2 linked regions of the Homo sapiens genome follow. The protein of the gene in region 1 interacts with the protein of each later gene in a biochemical or structural test. Each region holds a gene or a part of one and is shown on either strand. Other genes may lie near its edges.

Region 1 (5,451 bases):
GAAAATTCCAGGGGATTCCAATGCTGAACAATTGATCCAAGCCCCATAATTTCCCTCCCTTGCCCATCCTGTGCCCCTTGCCCTGTTCATGGCTCCCCCCTCACTCAAAGATTGGTCTCTGATCCTGGTGTTCTGATTCTCTCTTCCCACAATCAGTCGGAAGATCATAATAAAGAATTTTGACATTCCCAAGTCAGTACGTCCAAATGACGAAGTCACTGCAGTGCTTGCAGTTCAAACAGAATTGAAAGAATGCATGGTGGTAAGTAGAGGACTGGGGGCGTGACTTCAAAAGATAATTCAACTCCTTGATTATAAACATAATTTAATCTCTCACTTTAATAATGTACAGTGTACTTAATGAAACATTCTCACTTATGTTATGCTACTTGAGACTCAGAACAACTGTGGGAGCTTGGGACAGATGACTTCTCATTTTCCAGATGAAGAAGTTCGAATCCAGAGAAGTCTAGGATAAATAAGAAGGAAAGGAAGAAGGAATAGGAAGTGAGAAAGAGGGAAAAAGAAAAAAGTGTAAGAGCTAGTAGAGAAGCAGTTAGAGTCCTTCCAAGGTCCTGAGCATGTTTAGTTTAGGATGGAGGGAGGGGAGTTCTCAGAAGAGAAAGCAGCAACTCCACACCATAGGTTGAGGTGGGTGGGCAGAAGAGGACATGCAGGATATGACTCCTCCTCTCCAGTAAGCACTGAGCGACTCTACTGTCCTCTTGCCTTCTTCTGCTCCTTTGCTCTGGGTCACCAGAAGTGGACTCTTGTTCCAGCCTCCCCACCCTGACAAGGAGCTCGTAATCATCTCCTCCTTTTCCCCACGTTCAGAAGTCCAATCTCTGAACAAGGTCAGAGGTTTTCAAATGGTAATGTGTCTAAAACTCACTCGGGGATCTTGTTAAAATTCAGAGTTTCATTCAGCAGGTCTGGGGAGAGATTAGAACTTCTGGATTTTAACAGACGCCCAAGGTACACCAAGGCTGTGCCCAAAGGATCACATTTTTGAGCAGCTTGGGATTAGAGCATTATCCCTCCTGTCTAGCTGCCAAGGGCCAGAAGTCAAATAGACTTATGCAGTTATTAATCCACAGTGACTCTTCCCTGGGACACTGGTTGTGTGTCCTTTTCCTAGTCATTGATCTCAGATGTCACAAGCATGCAAACTGCCCCCACTACCTTTGTTCTAGGGCCAAGACCCATGCATCTCCCATCTCCCCTACTCCCTCCCCAGACCCTTCATGAAGGACACCTTCTATCAGGCAGCACAAGTATTTCCTTACAACATAAGTTTCCTAATTCAAATGAGACTTAAGGACAATGATTACATGTAAAACAACATTGAGAACATGAAGATTGCTATTCAGTCAACTGCATTCTAGAAATATCCCCACACCTGTAAAGAAAAATTCCTGGTCAATGAGCAAAGAATATCACAGCTGCTTTGTCAAATTTTTCTATTTTCAGTCCAAGAATCTGAGACATGTACACTAATTTGGGGTAGGAGCAAGGCTGAATCATAATTTTTCAACTCTGTATTTTGTTTATCACAAACACAGGTGAGAATGAGAATAAGAACATGTACATAATGTGTACATAAAATTTTTGTGAAAATGGTGGTTTCTGGTGGTAATAGTTAATGGTAGTGGTAGGTATAATAAGATATGTTTGAATCAATAAAATTACATGTGACATAATTTTGTGCTTTTGTGATTAATAAAAGTATGCTTTTAAGAATCATGCTAGTACTCTAAAATAAAGCAATCTTTTCAAAACCCACCTAAGCACAACTAAAAGAATAAGAAATCTTTAGACTAACTGACTTTGCAAACTAGAAATAATTTACAGGAAAGGAAATTTTGTTAATTCTAGTCAACAAATTTTTATTTGTGGCTTCATTTTTCAAAGTATAACTATTTTTAAATTTTTATTAAAATATATTTATATAACTATAAAATTCTTACCATCTAATCCTCATTTTTTATCATTTATAATGTTTTCTGTAACTGAATTTTTGAAAAAGTGAGGTTTAGACTCATATTTATTTATTTTAGAATTAGAATAGAATATACCTACAATCGTATATTTGAATATAAAGATTGCATAATCCTTTAAAGCTGAAGGAAACTTGTGGCAAAAACAATGCTTAAACATTTTTGTGCTACAGGCCATTTCGTTGGTTTCATGAAGTTTATGAAACATTTATCAGAAAATTGCTTCTAAATGTATAAAGTGCATTGGATTACAGAGAGAAACTACCACATTGAGTAACAGTGACTAACTTGTAAAAAATAAATTTGTGATGCAGTAAGGTATGTGTTTCTTTATGCACACATTAGCTGGGAAAGCAATACATTTAAAATATAGAAGAGTTGAATTTTATTCTATGAACACATTATCTGTGTGATGGATGTTGTTACTTAGCTTGAAGAAGTACATTAAACTGCACTGGTCTTTGGCAACACGTCCCACGTGCCATGCTAGGCATGCAACGGATTCTGATCTTTTATTGTACAAGTGGTGTAAATTCTGATTCATGACGATATGTTGTTGCTAATGTAACAGAAAGGTAAACAAGGCCGGGCACAGTGGCTTGTGCCTGTAATCCCAGCACTTTGGGAGGCCAAAGTGGGCAGATCACCTGAGGTCAGGAGTTCGAGACCAGCTTGGCCAACATGGTGAAACCCTGTCTCTACTAAAAATACAAAAATTAGCCAGGGCTGGTAGCACGCACCTGTAATCCCAGCTACTCAGGAGGCTGAGGCAGAAGAATCACTTGAACCTGGGAGGCGGAGGTTGCAGTGAGCCACGTTCGCACCATTGCACTCCAGCCTGGGCAACAGAGTGAGACTCTGTCTCTTAGAAAAAAAAAAAAAAGGGAAACAAGGCACAGGTAGTCTTCTCCAAAGAAACGCCAGGATTCTCCAAGGCATTCTGAGTAAAACTCCAAGGGTGAGAACACCTGAATTTACTGTTTAGGTCTGAACGGCTACTTGATGCTGAGTTGCCAGGTAGCTGAGCAAGCTGCAGGAGGTGGGCAGAATGGCACTGGGCCTCAGTCGTGACCATGAGCCAGTCTGATAACTGCCATACATTCAAGGTAGTACATTCAGGCTGTATTTCGGACCTCTGGATCCGTGCAATGATATGTACATATCTACTTTTCTCCTTGTGATAAAATCACACATACTGCTAATGGCACTGTGGTTCCTTGATGACATTCATAACAGAAGGAATGCTGAATTTCAATTAGAGGTTAGTAATAAAGATGCATATTTTTCCCCTGCCTGAGTCCACAGACTCACTGAATGCTATCCACAGATCCCTCTGGGTCTATGGACCCCAGGATAAAACTGCTGTGTTAAACGTTAACTGGACAAAATCCTCTGACTCCACTGAAATTTATATATACAATAATCTGGGATCTTGAATTGCAAAGCACTCAAGTTAAAAAGAAATTTACATTCAAGATGTTATTTGCTTATCTAACAGCCAGGTTTGGTAGTTAATTGTTTCCACCTCATACCTGAGGAAAGTGAGAGTGAGAGGCCTCTCATCACCAAAGGTCACCAAGTCAGAGAGGAGCACAGATGGGGCTTGGTCACAGCTCTGACAACAAGGCCTGACATTGGCTCCTACACGCAAGTGGCCAGGCTGCTGTCTCACCAGGTCTCAGAGTAAACGTGATTGCAGGTCGATTCCTGAAACCTCTGGCTGGTGACTAAGGCAAGCCTGCTCCTCAGCTGGACAGCTGCCCTGGATGAGCTCTCCTTGCCCTGTGGATTCACTTGCATCCCTATCTCCTCCTGAGCTTCTCCACACTGCTAAGGCAGGAGTTTGAGGGCATTGGAAGGGAAAACCTTCTGACCTAGACTTTGGCTCCTGAAATGATACTACAACAGTAGACTCCCCCTTGCCCTAGGCCCACCTCCACCCCCACTCTTCTCCTCCGGCTTTTCCCTCTCCTATTTTTCCCTCCCTTACCCATTCCCCAAAATAACAATGAATTCCCCCTCCCACCTTCTCCTCACCAGGTTAAAACTTACCTCATTAGCAGCATCCCTCTACAAGGTGCATTTAACTATAAGTATACTGCCTGCCTATGTGACGACAATCCAAAAACCTTCTACTGGGACTTTTACACCAACAGTAAGTACAGAAGTTGTCCAAGGAGGGAACTACCCACCAGCCACCAGGGAGGAGAAACTATAAACAGAAACATGGCTGCGAACCGAGCAGGACCAGGACCTCAGGGCAGAAGGACAGAAGGGAGGGAGGGAAGAGCATGGGGAGAGCAGATGGGGAAAGCACCCAGGTTCTAAGACAGAGGCATTGAGTGCAAAAAGTTGATACAGGAGACAAATTTGCAAAGGATTTGGGGAAACTGAACCCCAGGGGGCAGATGCCTGATATGAGTAGAAAAGACAGGACATGGCCGGGGTGTCTGAGAGATGATCTCCGTCCCTGTCTTTTTCAGGAACTGTGCAAATTGCAGCCGTCGTTGATGTTATTCGGGAATTAGGCATCTGCCCTGATGATGCTGCTGTAATCCCCATCAAAAACAACCGGTTTTATACTATTGAAATCCTAAAGGTAGAATAATGGAAGCCCTGTCTGTTTGCCACACCCAGGTGATTTCCTCTAAAGAAACTTGGCTGGAATTTCTGCTGTGGTCTATAAAATAAACTTCTTAACATGCTTCTCCATGTTCTGTTGTATCTCCAAAATCTGCTCCTGAAGAACCCCAGATTACCTGAAATTTCTAGAACATTTGTCTTTCAAAGAACCTTTACTGAGGAGATTGTACGGGTTCTCACTGCCCATTGGTATGAAGAGGGAGAGAAGAAGAAACTGGGAAGAGGAGCTATGCTCACAGAGAGGAAAAGCAGTGGCCCTAAAGTTCACGGCACAGGAGTGGCAGAGCCAGGGCAGGCACCAAGCCTCCCTGTTGCTTGACCTCTCTCCATCCCACTGCCCTCCAGCAACAGCTCAGATCCCAGAAGACAGGAGTCCTGTTGCATGCAGCAGAGTCAGGGATGGAGTCCATGGCCCCCTAAATGAGCAGTAGCATTCTATGCTATTCTGTTGCTTGTTTTCAATGGATTGTGACACTCAGGGATATCAGGGTCCTGTGCAGCTCTGCCTGAGGAGCTCAGGCATAATAGAGGAGTAAAGGGGCAGAGGGAGCCCTGAGGGGCTTCATCCCAGAGGGCCAGCCCATAGAAGTGGAATATGAGCAAGGATCAGGTGCACGAAGTGGGCAGAGGGCATTCTAGTAGATAGGACGCAGGCACCAAGAGCCCAAAGCATGAAATAGTGGCTTGCTCAGGGCAGGTAAACACTTTCATATTGGGCAGGATTAAGTATACATGGAAGAGTTAGAAGCAGATCTGGCAAGAGGACAGGAGCAAAATCAGGAGAGGCCGAGTGAATCTGGGCAAGAAAGTG
Region 2 (7,194 bases), on another chromosome or scaffold:
GAATCACTTGAGGTCAGGAGTTCGAGACCAGCCTGGCCAACATGGTGAAACCCTGTCTGTACTAAAAATACAAAAATTAGCCAGGCTTGGTGGCGCACGCCTGTAATCCCAGATACTCGGGAGTCTGAGGCAGGAGATTCGCTTGAACCTGGGAGGCGGAGGTTGCAGTGAGCCGAGATCACACCACTGCACTCGAGCCTCGGCGACAGAGCAAGACTCTGTTTCCAAAAAAAAAAGAAAAGAAAAAAGAAAAAAAAATATTATTCAATAGCCAGGAGTTGCAGGGAGTTAGAATGAGGAGTCAGTATTTAATGGGTACAGAGTTTCATTTGGGGAAGATGAAAAATTTCTAGATGGTTACACAACCATGTGAGTGTACTCAGTCCCACAGAGCAGTACATTAAAAAATGCCTAAAATGGCCGGGTGTGGTGACTCACACCTGTAATCCCAACACTTTGGGAGGCCAAGGTGAGCAGATCACTTGAGGTCAGGAATTCGAGACCAGCCTGGCCAACATGGTGAAACCCCGTCTTTACTAAAAATACAAAAATTAGCCAGGCGTGGTGGCGGGCACCTGTAGTCCCAGCTACTCGGGAGGCTGAGGCTGGAGAATCGCTTGAACCCAGGAGGTGGAGGTTGCAGTGAACCTAGATTGTGCCACTGCACTCCAGCCTGGGGGACAGAGTAAGACTCCGTCTTGGAAAAAAAAAAAAAAAAAGCTTAAAATGGAAAATCTTATGTTGCGTGTATTTTACCGCAATAAATTTAATATCAATAAAATTTAATATATTAGGAAAATATTAAACAAGCATTAAGGGTCTTCCAGGGCCAAGGCATCTGTGAGGGTGCTGGGAACATAGTGCTAACTAAGACAGACACGGTCACCGCTCTGGCCTGTGAGCTAGACACTAAGCAGCAAATAACTTCATTGCAACTGGAAAATTGCTACGAAGGGAGAAGCACAGGGGACTGGGAGATCTTATCACAAGGAAAACTGATTTCAACTGAGGAACCTGAGTATCCTCTGAGACTCTGGGGAGGAAGTCCTGTGCAGGAGAATGGTAGAGCAACAAAATATAAACAGCCCCAATCTTGGCCCTGGAGGACGGCGTGCTGCTCCCTCTCTTCTGCACCACCCACCTCCACACTTCCTACATGTGAAAAATAACTTCAATCTTGTTGAAGCCTCTATTATTTTGGGTTTTCTTTTGCTTGTAGCAGAACCCAGTGCTTACCGATAGACAATTCTCCCAGTTGAAAGAAGGTTCTTTTGTGATAAGATCTCCCAGCACCTTGTGCTTTTTCCTTTGTAGCGCTTGTCGAATTGTAATGAAGTTGTTCGTTGTTTAGTGTCTATGTCATAAGCTGGAGTGGTGACCATATCTGTCTTCTTCAACATCACATCCCCAGCTACCTAGCAGAGTGCCTTGGGCTGGTACACGCTTAACTACGTACATGAATGAATGGAGCAGGGCTCAAAACATCAATGCCTACCAGAGCCTGCCAGGTAATGTAAATGAGAAAAGCAGACTGGCTGTGAACAATAGGGAGGGTGTTTGCTTTCTAGTCTGAAGGAAGAAGGCCTGAGGAGGATACATTTTCCCCACTTTGAGGAGCAACTCTGAGGTTGCACCTAATACTTTCACTTCTATCTATTAACCAAAATTGAGTCACTTGGACACATCCAGCTGTGAGGGAGGCTGGGAAGTATATTTTAAATCTGGGTAGCTAAGAGCTCAGCTAAAAATTGAGGGTTCTATTACCAAGAAGGAGAAAATAGACTTTGGGGACAGCTAAAGCGATAGCTGAGATCTGAAGAATGAATAAAAATTACCTAGATCAGTGGTTCTCAGAGTGAAGTGTGGCCTGCAGACCCTTGGGAGTCCCTGAGACCCTTTCAGGGGATCTTCAAGGTCAAGCTATTTTCATAAAAAAATACAGGATGTTATTTTCCTTTGTCACTATGTTGACATTGCAATAATGTTGCAAAAACAATCTGGATAAAACTGCTGCCTTAGCATAAATGAAGGCAGTGGTGCCAAACCATATGATAGTCATTGCATTCTTCACTGCCAGGTACTTACAGTAAAAAAAGAAAAAAAATTAATGCCACTTTTACTTAAGAATGCCCTTAATGAGGCCGGGCGCAGTGGCTCGTGCCTGTAATCCCAGCACTTTGGGAGGCCGAAGCGGGCAGATCAGGATCACCTGAGGTCAGGAGTTCAAGACCAGCCTGGCCAACGAGTGAAACCCTGTCTCTACAAAAATACAAAAATTAGCCAGGCATGTTGGCGGGTGCCTGTAATCCCAGCTACTCGGGAGGCTGAGGCAGGAGAATGGCTTGAATCCAGGAGGCGGAGGTTGTAGTAAGCCGAAATCATGCTGCTGCACTTCAGCCTGGATGACAAAGCAAGACTCTGTCTCAAAAAAAAAAAAAAAAAAAAGAGAGATCAAGACCATCCTGGGCAACATGGTGAAACCCCATCTCTACTAAAGATACAAAAATTAGCTGGGCATTGTGGCGCATGCCTGTAGCCCCAGCTACTTGGGAGGCTGAGGCAGGAGAATTGCTTGAACCCGGGAGGCAGAGGTTGCAGTGAGCCAAGATCACGCCACTGCACTCTAGCCTGGGCAACAGAGTGAGACTCCCTCTCAAAAAAAAAAAAAAAAAAAAATATATATATATATATATATAGAATGCCTTTAATGAAGCAGTAAATACTAATTTTATTAAATCTCAACCCTTGAGTACGGTGTGTCATGAAATGAGAAGTAGCACACAGTACTATATGCTACAGATGAAGTACAATGCTGTCAAATAGGGGTACTTGTGTTAATTGTTGGAGTCGCAAGCTGAACTAGAGTTTTCTTTTCTTTTCTTTTCTTTTCTTCTTTTCAAGACAGGTTCTCACTCTGTCACTCAGGCTAGAGTGCAGTGGTGCAATCACGGTTCACTGCAGCCTCAACTTCCTGGGCTCAAGCGATCCCCCCACCTCGGCCTCCTAAAATGCTGGGATTATAGGCATGAGCCACCACTCCCAGCCCCACTTTTTTCAGACTGGAAAACGCACACTCACATGTGCATCTTTAAATGATCACTTGGGCTGTGGTATGGAGAATGGCGACCAGTGAGGAGGCAGGAGCTGTTGTCCGAGCAAGGGATGATATTGGCATCTTGGATTGGCATGGTGGCAGTAGTGGTAGTGCAGAGTGACTTGGGTAGATTTTGGAGCCATTTAGAAGGTAACATCCACAGGAACTGGTAAATAAATACGTGGGAGAAGTTGGGTGAAGGGGGTGTCAAAGATTACACCCAATTTATTTTGCTTGGGCAAGTTGGTGGATGGTGAGCCCCTCACTGAGTGAGAAGCCTGGAGAAGCAGGTTTGGAGGGTGGTAGTATGCAGGTGGTATGCATAGTTGGGGATGTGTGTTGAGTTTGCTATGTCCGGTGAGCTTCCCAGTGGAGATGTCCAATGGGCAGACGGATACTCACATAGAGAGTTCATGGTAGATTCGGGCTAGAGGAAAGCACCTGAGGCCTGGCCAGAGACGCCTAGAGGAACAGAGCCTGGTTAACAGTCACTCCTGGTGTCTCAGATATTCTCTGCTCAGCCCACGCCCTCTCTTCCACACTGGGCCACCTATAAAGCCTCCACAGATACCCCTGGGGCACCCACTGGACACATGCCCTCAGGGCCCCAGAGCAAGGAGCTGTTTGTGGGCTTACCACTGCTGTTCCCATATGCCCCCAACTGCCTCCCACTTCTTTCCCCACAGCCTGGTCAGACATGGCGCTACCACTAATGGAATCTTTCTTGCCATCTTTTTCTTGCCGCTTAACAGTGGCAGTGACAGTTTGACTCCTGATTTAAGCCTGATTCTGCTTAACTTTTTCCCTTGACTTTGGCATTTTCACTTTGACATGTTCCCTGAGAGCCTGGGGGGTGGGGAACCCAGCTCCAGCTGGTGACGTTTGGGGCCGGCCCAGGCCTAGGGTGTGGAGGAGCCTTGCCATCGGGCTTCCTGTCTCTCTTCATTTAAGCACGACTCTGCAGAAGGAACAAAGCACCCTCCCCACTGGGCTCCTGGTTGCAGAGCTCCAAGTCCTCACACAGATACGCCTGTTTGAGAAGCAGCGGGCAAGAAAGACGCAAGCCCAGAGGTAAGGTGGTCAGACTCGGCTTCCTTCCCCGGAGCTGAGAGGGAGGGGAACGTGGGGCAGATGCACAGGAATGTGCTCTGCCCAGTTGTCTGCCCACAGCTCTGGCCACCTTCTCTTGCATTTCTCTTGGAACTGGTCATGAGCAGCGATTTCCCACTGGAACTGTGAGCTTCCAGAGGTCAGAGACTGTGCTAGACTCCTCTCTGCAGCCCCAGCGTGCACAGCTCAGTGTCCAGAGCAATGGGTGCTCCTTAGAGGAGTAGTGACCTAAATAGCAAGATCAGAGAGGGAGTGAAGACTGGAGACTATCCCAGGCTGGGAAAGGCGTGGAAGGCAACTAGTCGTGGGCAGTTGAGGGGAGAAGACTGGAAGAGGGGAAAAGAGGAGAAAAAGAGTGAAGAAGGGGAGGGAAAAAATTAGAAAGAATAAATAAATATAAGGTGGGAGGAAACCTATAAAAAAGAAATGATGAGGAAAAACATAAAAACAAGAAAAAGAGCAAAAGAAGTGGAATCTAGTCTAGAGAAAATTCTTGCAAAACCAATTTTCCTTAACGGGACAATCTCCAAAAATTGACACCAAATATCATACTTGCAGCATTTCATAAGTCGCATGATCTATGTAATAGTCTCTTTTAACTACCTTTTGTGTTTCTGTGTGTATTTTTAAATTTTTGTCTGCTTCTTTGCTCTTTTAAGATTTTTGAACAATGTCTAAAGGCACTTCTACTCTAGTTAGCTTTAAAATGATTCATGAAATAGGAAAGCTAAAATTCTCAGAAAGTGTTGAAACTGAGCTTTTGCGTATGAATTGCCCTAAAAGTTGCAGATACATATCTTTAGATAAATATGTCATTTAAGAAACGGATTCGAAAAGAATTGGTGGTAGGGGTCTCATGAGGCCGGGAGAGTTACAGAAGGATGTGCAGCCCCTCCTGGGCCTGGCAGGGTGTGAGGGAGAGTGAGGACTCACTGTCCCTCCTGAAGGGAAGCCCTGTGCCATCTCAGCCTTTCCGCCCTCAGACCTTTCCAGCCCCTGAGACCTCATGGCCTTGAAGCCGTGCTATCCCCAGTGTCCTCTGCTTTCCCCTCATAGGCTTCTTCTGGGAGAGAGGTTTCCTGGGGTACGTTCTGATCCCTCAAAACGGAAAGGCCCTGTTCTCAATAATTCAAAGATTTCACTCTGAGTGGGATAGTGCTTCCTGAATGCCCTGCTCTTGTGGTGGACATTTTTATCGGGGCAAGGCTAAGAGCAGGGCCTGATGGGGGAAGTCACTGCTACTTCACATTTTGACCAATAATTCCTTGTGCTGTATCAGATGCTGTAGGCTGATACAAAATGGCCGCCGCCCTCAAAGTCAGATGAAAGAGCCCCTGAGGACAGCGTTAGAGACACTCGGGAGATGATTTCCCTCTTTCAATGTGGGAGCACTTACATAGGAGAGGTCTATATCTAGATAAAAACTCCTCCCACCACTGGTGCTAGACAGAGCTTGGGGGCAGCCCTAGGCTCTGACCCTGGCCGTAATGGCGGGGTGGTGCTGAGGGCAATTGGCTAGACCAATTGTCTTGCACGTTTTATTTTTTATTATTATTTTTGAGACGGAGTCTCGCTCTCTTGCCCAGGCTGGAGTGCAATGACGTGATCTCCACTCACTGCAGCCTCCACCTCCTGGGTTCAAGCGATTCTCCTGCCTCAGCCTCTTGAGTAGCTGGGATTACAGGAGCCCAACACCACGCCCGGCTACTTTTTGTATTTTTAGTAGAGACCAGGTTTCACTATGTTGGACAGGCTGGCCTCAAACTCCTGGCCTCAAATGATCCGCCCGCCTTGGCCTCCCAAAGTGCTGGCATTACAGACGTGAGCCACCATACTGGGCCAGTCTTGCACATTTTAGACACTCAATAAATGTTTGTTGAATGAAATACCTGTGATGGGCCGGGCGTGGTGGCCCACACCAGTAATCCCAGCCCTTTGAGAGGCCGAGGCAGGAGGATGGCTTGAACCTGGGAGTTTGAGACCAGCCTGGGCAACATGGTGAAACCCCCATCTCTACAAACCCCACAAAAGTTAGCTGGGCATGGTAGTGTGTGCCTGTGGTTCCAGCTACTTGGGAAGCTGAGGTGGGAGGATTGCTTGAGCCTGGGAGACGGAGGCTGCAGTGAGGCCTGACTGTGCCACTGCACTCCAGCCTGGGCGAGAGTGAGGCCCTGTCTCAAAATAACTTTGATGAAGGTGGGGAATCAGAAGTAGGTGGGCAGGGGTCTGGGTTTGCAAGGCTCTGAGTTTGAGCTCTGTTCTGTACCTTTGAGGGGATGAGGGAAGGAGGGTGGGCACGGTTCCCCCGATGTGGGTGTCTGAGGCGAAGAAGAGGATGGCGGAGGTTGCAGCCACCAACCACAAGAGTTCCTTAGAGGGGTCACAGTCTCTAGGAAGTTTATAGGAAGCTAGTCAGCAGTAGAGAGGGTGAACGCGGTGGGGCACATCCCGCGGCTGGGCTTGAGTGGGCTGCTTGGGGGTTATGGGGAGAAGATAAAAGTGCCTGTGGGACCACAGACTCTCGCTGTGGTGGAGCTGGGCCCTCTTACCCTCCCAAGCCTCGCCCCTCATCCCATCCCTGGGGGCCAGGGGTGAGGGCGGCAGGAACCTCAAGGCTCTGAGAAAGTGCGTGGTGTGTGTTGCCATTTTGGTCTCTTCTCTTTCTCAGTCTCTCTTTGCCTCACTTTGGATCTATGCTCTGTGCATCTGTCTTGCTTCTCAGAATTTCTTCTTTTCCTCTTTTTTTGTACTACCCTGCGCTTTGTGTGTGATTGTGGATTGTGTGTGCATAGCTGTTGCTTTAACAAGCTGCTCCAGGTCTCTCTCTCCCACATCTTTCCCTCCCCTCCTCCCTTGAGGCTCTGTGCATTCTGGGGAACTCTGTCCATTTCCCTTTGTCCATGTGTCCCTCCCACCCTGCAGCCGGCTCCCTCACATCCACCCTGGGCTGCAGGCGTGCTCGGCAGGCTCCCCACAGATCAAAGCTTGTC

The links.
Region 2: the proteins of PIP (region 1) and CD4 form a complex in vitro, tested with the Homo sapiens proteins (one study listed by BioGRID).

What each region holds. Positions count from the first base shown.
Region 1 is NC_000007.14:143,135,038-143,140,488, forward strand, and holds the end of PIP (prolactin-inducible protein precursor), read left to right. Parts: intron 1-156; coding exon 157-262; intron 263-4,037; coding exon 4,038-4,152; intron 4,153-4,480; coding exon 4,481-4,605; 3' UTR 4,606-4,702; downstream 4,703-5,451.
Region 2 is NC_000012.12:6,785,498-6,792,691, forward strand, and holds the start of CD4 (T-cell surface glycoprotein CD4 isoform 1 precursor), read left to right. Parts: upstream 1-4,030; 5' UTR 4,031-4,165; intron 4,166-7,194. UniProt on the Homo sapiens protein: Integral membrane glycoprotein that plays an essential role in the immune response and serves multiple functions in responses against both external and internal offenses.